Regions from separate parts of the Homo sapiens genome. Here region 1 is linked to region 2. The links come from fine-mapping of genetic effects on gene expression. A gene starts in region 2. The other region holds a variant in brackets. All regions are shown on one strand. Distances are between the middles of the regions. Region 1 has its middle 15 kb from the start of RBM4B. Region 2 holds the start of RIN1 (Ras and Rab interactor 1).

Region 1 (5,000 bases), 330 kb after region 2:
AAATCAGATGTTTCTTTCGTTACTTAGAACCTTTCAGCAACTTCCCCTTTTATCTAAAGTAAAATGCCCAATCCCTTAGTTTGAACGTGCCTTTCCTCTGTCACACTTTATTATCTCAGGCCCTTTTCCCTGCTTATCTATCCTTTTCTGACCATACTGACTCTCCTTTCAGATCCTTGTATACACTGAGCTCTTTCCTGCCTCAGGGCCTTTTTTTTTTTTTTTTTTTTAAATCTGAAGGGACCTTTCTCTTTACTGCTTTAGAGCTAACTTAACTTCAGGTCTTAGCTTCAGGATCAAGTATTGGAATGCCCTCCCAAACCACCTGTAGCTTAGTAGATATGTCCTCCCATTATTCCCTGCCATTGGACCCATTTTGTGTAATTTGTGGTACTTATCACAATTTCTTTTTTTTTGAGATGGGAGTCTCTCTTTTTTTTTTTTTTTTTTTGAGACAGAGTCTTGCTCTGCAACCAGGCTGGAGTGCAGTGGCACGATCTTGGCTCACTACAACCTTTGCCTCCTGGGTTCAAGTGATTCTCCTACTTCAGCCTACTGAATAGCTGGAATTACAGGCTTCTGCCTAATTTTTTTGTAGTTTTAGTAGAGACAGGGTTTCGCCATGTTGTCCTGGCTGGTCTCAAACTCCAGACCTCAGGTGATCCTTCTACCTCGGCTCCCAAAGTGCTGGGATTACAGGTGTAGGTAGGCCACTGCACCCGACCTAAACTTTTTTTTTTTTTTTTTAATTTGAGATGGAGTCTTGCTCTGTCGCCCAGGCTGGAGTGCAGTGGTGCGATCTCAGCTCACTGCAAGCTCTGCCTCCCGGGTTCACGCCATTCTTCTGCCTCAGCCTCCCGAGTAGCTGGGACTACAGGCATGTGCCACCATACCTGGCTAATTTTTTTTGTATTTTTAGTAGAGGCAGGGTTTCACCATGTTAGCCAGGATGGTCTCGATCTCCTGACCTCGTGATCCACCCGACTCGGCCTCCCAAAGTGCTGGGATTACAGGCGTGAGCCACTGCGCTCAGCCGTGCCCGGCCTAAACTTTCTAAATCTCAGTAGCCTTAATTGCTGGGAGAGCCAGTGATGCTACCTCATTGGGTTCTTGTGGATTTGCAGGGGTGACAGATACACGGTTTGAATTTGGCCTGGATTCTCAAAGGCCCTGCAAACCTAAGGCACTTCAGATTGAATTCATCTCGTCAGATTTTTCATTCTTCTCCTGCAAGTTCCTGGAGCTGATTCTATCATTTCTTGCATTTCATTTCTCCTCAGCGGCAGAGCCTAGCTCTGGTCTGAAGAAAGCCGAGATTGATCTTCCAACAAACTGACAGCTCTTCCCAGGAATATTTATTTCTCCCCTCCTTCCTTTTCCCAAATCTCCTAGGCCAGGTGACTTCCTGAGGACCAGGTTTGTAAGCAAAATCCTGACAAGCTATGAAACCAATCTGGGGCAAGTTGCTTCCCTTTTCTGGTCCATCTTGCAGGCAGCCAACCTTTTTCTGCCCTTAGGACAAGTTTCTAACAGCACCTTGAGTGCCCTGAGGGCCTAGTGTCTTTCTGTGCCATGCTGGAAACCTGAGGAAGGGGGTAGATCTGAGGCTACAGAAACCACATATGCCTCATTCATCACCATGTTCCCACATCCTAGCTCATAGTAGGAATTCAAACAGTTGATAAATGAATTCAGGAGCTTTTAGCGTTGAGAGGCCTCATGGGACTCTGAAATGGTCTATAGTGAGAAACTTGGTGAACTAAAGGAATTTTGTATTCACAATATGCAATTTATCATATAAGAAGTAAGGTTTAGGAATAAAAACATTGGCCAGGTGTGGTGGCTCACGCCTGTAATCCCGGCACTTTGGGAAGCCGAGGTGGGTGGATCACCTGAGGTCAGGTGTTCAAGACCAGCCTGACCAATATGGTGAAACCCCATCTCCACTAAAAATACGAAAATTCACCAGGCGTGGTGGCGCGCGACTGTGATCCCAGCTACTGGGGAGGTTGAGACAGGAGAATTGCTTGAACCTGGGAGGCAGAGGTTGCA[G/C]TGAGCCGAGATCATGCCAGTGCACTCCAGCCTCAGTGACAGAGCGAGACTCCATCTCAAAACAAAAAAATACATTTGTCCTACTCAACAGTACTCTTTTGGTGTGAAAGGTTTTCTAAAATAAAAATTATGCAATTCTGCAGGGCTTTTTCTCCACCTATGAGCAGCTTATTTTACTATCTAAACTGCTGTCCAATAGAGTAGCCACTAGCTACATGTAGCTAATTATAATTAAATAAAAAACTCAGTTTCTCAGTGGAATAAACCACATTTCAGGTACTCAGTAACCACAGTAGCCACAAATTGGACAGCACAGATATGGAACACTTCCATCACTGCCAGGAGTGTTATTGGGCAGTGATGATATAGAACTCTTTTGCAGAAAATTTTTTTTCTTGTGCCAATGACATAGAAATCAAGATACTTTTATTTATTTATTTATTTTTTTGAGACAGAGTCTCACTCTGTTGCCCAGGCTGGAGTGCATTGGCGTGATCTTGGCTCACTGTAACCTCTGCCTCCTGGGTTCAAGCGATTCTTGTGCCTCAGCCTCCCTAGTAGCTGGGATTACAGGTGCACACCACCATGCCCGGCTAATTTTTTGTATTTTTAGTAGAGATGGGGTTTCACCATGTTGCCCAGGCTGGTCTCAAACTCTTGAGCTCGGGCAATCCACCTGCCTCAGCCTCCCAAAATGCTAGGATTACAGGCGTGAGTCACGCACCTGGTATATGTTAAACTTCCTATGTTAAATTGGTTGAAACCTAGCACAGAACCACCAGAGATTTTGCTGAGGCCAGCAAAACCTGCAAATTTTTTTTCTTGGCTCTGCATAGTGCCTTGCAGATCATAAGAAAATCCCAGCATCTTTGCCTTATTTTCCCTTTTGTAAAACAGAGACAGTCTTGCTTCCTTGGGGAATACTGACGCTAACATGAGCCTTATGTACATCACCACTGGTTGGAATGTGTGCATGGATGGACAGGTTAACTTCTGTAGATTGTCAGACCATTCCCCTAAGAAATAAGGGAAAATTTTTGCTTCACCTGTCAAGATTAAGTATAAAATATGTGAGGTAAATGCTTTATTATTGTAGGTAAAATTTCACATGTAGTCAGAATTTACACATCAACATTTCCATATAAAGTACAATAAAGCTTAAGTAGAGTTGAGTCCATCATTAAATGTGTTCTATGGGGATCTAAACAAAGATAAATAAGATGTCCATAATCTAGAAGACATACTTTACTGCAAAATGTCACTGCTAATCATTAATATGTGATTTGCTTTTCTGCTCAAAGTACTATGTATGAATATTTTAGCCAAAGCCTAATCCTAGCAGAATATTAGCACCTTGGGAAGACAGACCTCTTTTAATAGCTCATAAGTGAATTTAATTTTTTATTTTTTTGAGATGGAGTCTCGCTCTGTCACCCAGGCTGGAGTGCAGTGGCGTGATCTCGGCTCAGTGCAACCTCTGCCTCCTTGGTTCACGCCATTCTCCTGCCTCAGCCTCCCGAGTAGCTGGGACTACAGGCGCCCGCCACCACATCCAGCTAATTTTTTGTATTTTAGTCTTGATCTCCTGACCTCGTGATTCGTGTGCCTTGGCCTCCCAAAGTGCTGGGATTACAGGCATGAGCCACTGTGCCTGGCCTAATTGTTTTTTAAAAATTAAAAAAGGAGAAACACTGGAGAGGGGTGGTAACTAGGCAAAAATGTGTGTGTATATGTGTGTGTGTGTGTGTGTGTGTGTGTATATATGTTTTCTTTTTGTTTTGTAAATATGAGCCAGAAAACTATGAAGTCAAATTTAGTTAATGTGATAGGTCCTTGGAGAGAATCTGGCTCAGCCTTTTTCTGATGCAGGGCTTACTCCTAGCACTACTAATCTGAGTCTGTTAGCCTTTAAACTGGTTTAAGAGCAGCTCTGGTTAGAGAAAAGTAGCCTCACCACCAGCTGTAGCAAATTTAGCAGTGTCTCAAGAATCTGGCTAACTTCCTACCACCTATTACTGAAGCCACAGCACTAACCTAAATCCTTTTTTGTTGTTTTGGAGACAGGGCCTCCTGTTGCCCAGAATGGAGTGCAGTGGCATGATCACAGCTCACTGCAGCCTCAACCTCCTGGGCTCAAGAGTCTCCCACTTCAGCCTCTTGAGTAGCTGAGATTACAGGCATGCACCACCATGCCCAGCTGTTTTTTTTTTTTTTTTTTTTTGAGATGGGAGTACAGTGGTGCCATCTCGGCTCCCTGCAACCTCTGCCTCCTGGGATCAAGCAATTCTCCTGCCTCAGCCTCCCAAGTGCTGGGACTACAGGCACTCGCCACCACGCCTGGCTAATTTTTGTATTTTTAGTAGGGACAGGGTTTCGCCATGTTGGCCAGGCTAGTCTCAAACTCCTGACCTCAGGTGATCTGCCTGCCTCGGTCTCCCAAAGTGCTGAGATTACAGGCGTGAGCTATCGCGCCTGGCCAACTAATTTTGTTGTTTTTGTTTCTTTTGAGATGGAGTTTCGCTCTTGTTGTCCAGGCTGGAGTGCAATGGTGCAATCTTGGCTAACTGCAACCTCTGCCTCCTGGGTTCAAGTGATTCTCCTGCCTCAGCCTCCTGAGTAGCTGGGATTACAGGCGCCTGCCACCACGCCCAGCTAATTTTTGTATTTTAGTAGAGATGGGGTTTCACGATATTGGTCAGGCTGGTCTACCTGACCTCAGGTGATCTACCCACCTTGGCCTCCCAAAGTGCTGGGATTACAGGCGTGAGCCATCACGCCCAGCTGGCCAACTGATTTTTTATTTTTGGTAGAGACAGGGTTTCAACATGTTGCTCAGGCTGGTCTTGAACTTCAGTGGGCTTAAGTGACCTGCCCACCTCAACCTCCCAAAGTGCTAAGATTACAGGTGTAAGCCACCATGCCTGGGCTTAAATCCTTCCTTCTATATC
Region 2 (5,512 bases):
GGAGCCGCTTGACCTGGGCGCTGGGTGAGTAGGTGCGGAGCAGCTGCAGCAGCTTCTGGCGCACTTGCTCCAACTCTACTGGGGAGGGCAGGCTCAGGTGGGACCCGAAGGCTCCGGGGCCCTGGGCCCGGGCCAGGCGGAGGCCCTCAGCTAGGCGGCCCAGGGAGCCGTCTGCGGCAAGCCGGCGCCGCAGGCGGGCTGCCAGGATGGGCCGGAGAGGCTTGAGCACAGAGCAATGCAATGACTTCTCCAGGACATGTTCTGCCGGAGGGACAGGGAGGGGTCAGGGGAAGACTGGGGGTATGGGGGGCAGAGGCAAGGGGAGAAGGGAGCAGGGGTAGAATCGGGGAGGAGAGGCAAGGAAAGCAGGAGGAGGTAGCCTGGGTGAGACGGAAGAGTTGGGGGAGAGAGGGGATGGAACTCTCTCGAACAGTGGTAAGACAAGATGGATTTGTAAAGCAGCAGAACAGAATCAGACAGGCTGGCGCTGTGGAGGGGAGCAGAGGGTCGGATGGGGCAGTGCTGGAGCTATGGAGAGACGGAGCCTCACCCAGCCTCTTAGGCGACAGCAGCTTCTCAGGGCCCAGCTCCGCACTCAGCATGGCCCGGGCCCGGCTCAGCGCCTGACGGATGCCCTGCAGCTCCTGGGGCTCGGGCCCAGCCCGCACCTGGGTCAGTAGGTCCTGCACCAGCTGGCCCGCGGCTGTGTGTCGGTCCTGCATCAGTGCTGCCGCAGCCCGGCCCACCTGCCGCTCCGGTGCCAGTAGGGAGCAGAAGGCGGCGCTCATGGACCGAAGCAGAGGTCGTCGGCGGCCCAGGTGGGGTGAGGTCGCTGGGCTCCCCCGGGACCCTGGCACCCCCTCCTCCTCGGAGCTGCTGGGGGAGCCGCAGTCCACCTCTTGGAGGGAGGGCATAGGCGGAAGGCTAGGGCCACTGCCTGCTGGCACGCGGTACCCCACTGAGCTCTCCCTCCGTAGCAGCTGGCAAGGGGGCAGCCGCTCTGTCTGGCTGGGGACTGCCCCTGGCAGCACGGGGACGGGGGGAGGTGGCACGGCAGGTGGAGACAGGGGGCTGGAGGTCTCTGTGGACACGCGCACTTTGAAGCTTCTCTTGAATTTCTCCCGCTTGGTGGGCCCTAGGTCCCCCGGGAACAGGGGGTTGAAGAAGCACAAGGCGGCTCCGGTGCCCTGGTCCAGCTCTTGAGGGGACCGGGCCTTCAGCTGGGGCAACACTGGGCCTCCAGCCGGGCCCCGCTGAGCCTTGATGTTGAGGGAGGAGCTCCAGAACTCTAGGGAACAAGAAACCGACTGGGGCCTCCGGGACTGGTTAGGGGAAGTTTCCCAACCAAGGCAAGGCAGGGGCTTCGGGCGGTGTGCTGCGAGCCTTGCCTTCCCCTCGGCCTCAGCTTGTTCATCTGTGCAATGGGTGGCAGGAAGCCCTTACCAATGCCCAGATGGGAGATGGCCTCCAGCTCTTTGTGAGTGGCTGCGTGGTGGATGGCTCTGGGGAGCTGCAGCGGGAGGAGAAGGATGTCCCTGAGGCCAGAGAGGGGAGCAGAAGGGAGTGAGGGCCGAAGAGGGCGGGAAGGATGGGCTGTCCCAAGGAGCAGGGCCCGTGGACACCAGGCACCCTGCGGGCAGACTCACCGGGTGTGGCAGTAGGCACAGATGAGCTGGACTAGGTCTGGGAACATGAGCTCCGAGCCCTCCAAGGAGACGCCTGAGAGAGGAGGGAAGTGAGGTGCTTCTCTGGGGAACCTCCCTGCTTCCAGCCCCTTCCCGCCAGGCCAGCCCCTCACCGCCAGGGCTCTCCAGGATGTAGTGGCTGGAGACGAAGGAGGGGCCACTGGCTTCAGGCAACCGCATGCACAGGGCCTGGCACTGGCGGGTGTTAGATTTCCGCACGAGGAACGTCTGCAAGTGGATAGGGCTCAGGCAGCTCAGGACCTTGGCGTCCCATCCCTCTCCCTCCCACCCCTGGCTGGCCAGTCCCTGGAGTGTGGGGCAAGACTCACCCCCGGGGGCTCGGTCCTCAGCATGTGCAGTGCGGCCGCTGCGTTGGCTTGCAGCTGCAGCCACACGGGCCGGGTGAGCAGCAGGCGCTCCCGCAGGCTCACAACGCGCCCCGGCCGCTGCGGCCCGCCTGCCTGCCCGCCGCTGGCATTGGGCACGTCATACAGTGGGTCCTGGGCTGGCCTGGGGGCAGGCACCCAGATCTGAGCAGGGAGCCAGGGGCTGGGACCCTTGCTCTCCTCTTCCCCACTCCCGGGTTTCCCACTTTCTCTATCCCCGGATAGGCCCTCCTCTCGCAGCCCCTCCCTGCCCCACCTGGCTGCCCTGCCAACTTCACTAACTTTTCTCTCGCCAGGTGCCCAGTAGTGAAGCTGGACGGGCTGGGGGCTCCAGGAGAGCCCGCGCCTGACTCTCCAGGGCTTTCCATGGCTGGGAGCTCCTTCGCTTCAGGAAGAGAATCCAGTCCCAAGGCAAGGCACGCACATCCCCAGTGAGTAACACTTCCTGAGGGCGGTCCGCCTGTCACACCCGCCAGTTAACTCTTGTGTGTCCACCCTGCCTGGCCAGTGCCCGCCTCCTCTGTTCTGGACCCTGCTTTGGGGGTCAGGGGTCCCCTCCATGCTAGCCCTGCTCTGAGGGCCCCAGCTGGGGGATGCCACCTCCACACACGGCCTCCTGCAGCCTCACCAGCTACTCACATTGCACACGTGGGCGGGAAGTGGTTAAGCGGCCTCAGTCCCCACAGGCCCCAGCCATGCTCTGGGGGCACCTTTGGCTCTGTGGTCAGTTGCTCATCTGCCCCTGGCCTCAGGTCAGCCTTGTGGGAGAGCACCCTCTACTGTCCATAGATGACTCATTCCTGAACCTGGGTTTTAGGATTTTAGGTTGCCATGGAGAAAATATGCCATGTCTCCATGGAAACCAACCTATTTGCTTAACTGAGGTTCTGGGGGTGGTTCTGACACTCAGTGCTAACCAGGGGGAGTCTGGCTGTGAGGTCGTCAGCACATGGCGGTGCTGCCGGCTGCCTCCCACGCACGCAGGCTCTGCCAGCCTGCCTTGCCAATCTGCCAGGCAACTGGGACAGGTGCAGACATGACCCAGGCTCCAAGCACACGCATCCACCCTCCCCGCCGAGGCACTCTCCCGGTGCCATATGTTGACTCTGCCCAGCGCCAGGCAGCCCAGCGCCCACCTCCCCCTCCCCAGCCTGGCCCCACGCACAGTGCTCTAGCCTCTGCTGGGTAGTGTGAGGAGTGGCAATCTGCAGGCACCCTAGAAGTCGGCCTGGTTCAGGTGCTCCCCACGGGAGCCCTGATTCTCTTGCAAGGTAAATCACACACACACACAGGGCACGCCAGAGTCCCAGGAAAGGTTTTAATTCCAGTCCTTGGAATCTGAGAAGCAGACACCAAGAACTGCCCTGAGAACACCTGGGGGGCCTGGCATCTTGCCTCCAGATCCAGCCAGGGTGGACAGACCCCCAGATAATCACGTCTGACTCAGAGTTCCCGCACAGTGGAAACTGGCTCCCTGGCCCTGAGGCCGGACAGCCTGCATCCAACATCAGCAAGAGGATGTGGCTTTGACTTCGGCTGTCTTCTCTGTCAGGGGAGCCCCAAGAGATGGATCTTCAGGAGTGGGAGGTGGCAGGCGGCTCAGGGATGGAGACAGCAGCCTTGCCTGGTCAGGTCAGCTCCACGGCCACAGCTGTGCAGGCCTCGAGGAGGGCAGAGGAGGAGTCCAGGCCAGTGCCAGATGGAGTGGGAGGGCCCAGCAGCACCACAGGAGCCTGGCTGGGCAGACCCTGAGGGGCCTGTGGGTCCGCCTGTCTGCAGGAGGAAGACGAGAATCCTGGGTGCAGTGCCAGCTGCTCTGAGGGTCCCCCTGGCTGTGAACAGCAGGGTCAAGGTCCTGTGCATATGTGGGAAGAAGAAAACTGTCACCAGTTAGGAAGCTGAAAGGAAGGAGGCAGCCACTTACTGAGTGGCTTTGGGCTGGCCCAGAACAGGCCTCCTGGGCAGCTCCACAGCCCTCCCTGACCCCTCCTGAGTGGGAGCTCCATCAACCCAGAGCTTCCCCAGCCCCATCCTGGTTCCTGCTCCTCAAACTCCCACAAGCCCCTCAAATCTAGACCATCCTAACTTTCTTGAGCCACTGATTCTGACACAGTCACAGCCTTTCTCTGGGCTCCTTCCTGGAAGCTGAGCTGAGGAAAGGTGATGGCAAGGGGGCAGGGAAGGCCATGCAACAGCCATGGTTCTTACCATCCGATTTTCTCTTCTGAGGGGACACAGCTGCCCTAGCCTGGGTGGGTGAGAAGAAAAGCTCCCCTGAGAGCCCACCTCCAGCTTGGCAATCCCTGCCCCACCCCCCACCTCTGTGGCTTGTGGGCTGTTGCCTCAGTGCTGTGCCCCCAGGACCGGGAGCATAGGCCCCACCCAGGCAGAGCTCCCATGCTCCTGACTGCTGGCCAGCTCAGCGGCTCTCCCGCCTCCCCGCCACCCTCCCACCCCATCAAAACCTGCCCCAGAACGGGAAGGGGCTGACACAGACTAGAAATCCCTTTTCCCAGGGCCGCCTTGAGCAAGAGGACTTGTGAGCCAACTGCGATCCAGGGACTCTGGGCTGAAGATGGGGAAGCCTTGGTGAGCAGAGAACTCCCAGGCCTGCAGATGGCAGAGCTGCTGCCAGGGTGGGGGGCCCTGAGGTGGGGCAGGTCACGTGGGCAGCAGCGGCCCCCACCTTTTTGATGGCTGTCCAGTCCTCCAGGATGTCGATCTCTTGAAGCATGTACACGATGTATGGGCCTGTGGTGGGGGTCAAGGAAGCCTAGTGGAGGTGGCAGGTGACGAGGGCAGGGCCACCCACCTGACATTCAGGAGTGGGGGTACAGCGGACAGCATGGAGTGGGAGCTGAGGACCTGGGTCCGAGGTCAGGTTCCACCTCCTACCTCTTAACCCCCTGGTTCCAGGGGTCGTCCTGGAACCAAGTCTATGGAGGACACCAAATGTTGTTCCCTGTCCCTTGCTCACCCTCACCTCGTCTTAGGTCAGCTGGCTGAGGCCCATCCCATCTCACTCTGCAGCACTGGCCCTAACCTGGCCCCTTCCCTGATCCAAAGACAGACGCAGGGCTTATCCCTTCAGAGACAACTCTCCCTCCCCCAGTGCTCCCTACTTGATGTCTCCATGCCTTCACCTTCCATTCACTCAAGTCATGGCCTTCCAGATTCCTCCCTCCCTGCCTGGGCCTGCTCTCCAGCACCAGGTTGCCATAATGACTAAGACTGGCTGCTGCAGGAATACCCTCAGGGGTGCAGGAGGACTCAGCTCTGCCAGGACAGATGAAAGCACAGCAGGCCCTGGACTAAGCTTAAGCTAGCCCTGCCTAGGAAGGGGTGGAGGCAGCCAGTGCCCTCTGGGATGTGGGTACCCCATGGTAGGGCACAGAAGCACACAGGAAAGTGAAGCCATAGGCACCAGGGTAAGACCAGAAG

Evidence for each region. PIP is the estimated chance that this variant, and not a neighbour inherited with it, causes the effect.
Region 1: its variant is the best candidate, but not a certain one, in a credible set for the expression of RIN1 in whole blood (INTERVAL, PIP 0.51).

Annotation. Positions count from the first base shown.
Region 1 is chr11:66,659,920-66,664,919 of GRCh38, forward strand. It overlaps a transcript of RBM4 not described here. Among named protein-coding and RNA genes, the nearest start is that of RBM4B, 15 kb to the right of the region's middle. The variant G/C (reference allele first, on the strand shown) is at 2,053.
Region 2 is chr11:66,333,964-66,339,475 of GRCh38, forward strand. It overlaps RIN1 (Ras and Rab interactor 1), which reads right to left and starts at 2,471. Exons shown (of 10, transcript NM_004292.3): 1 at 2,354-2,471; 2 at 2,015-2,195; 3 at 1,799-1,913; 4 at 1,647-1,719; 5 at 1,444-1,535; 6 at 551-1,288; 7 at 1-261. The coding sequence starts at 2,439. BRMS1 (BRMS1 transcriptional repressor and anoikis regulator) reads right to left here. Exons shown (of 10, transcript NM_015399.4): 8 at 4,758-4,822; 9 at 4,280-4,319; 10 at 3,376-3,926. The coding sequence ends at 3,919. RefSeq lists an enhancer at 2,951-3,805.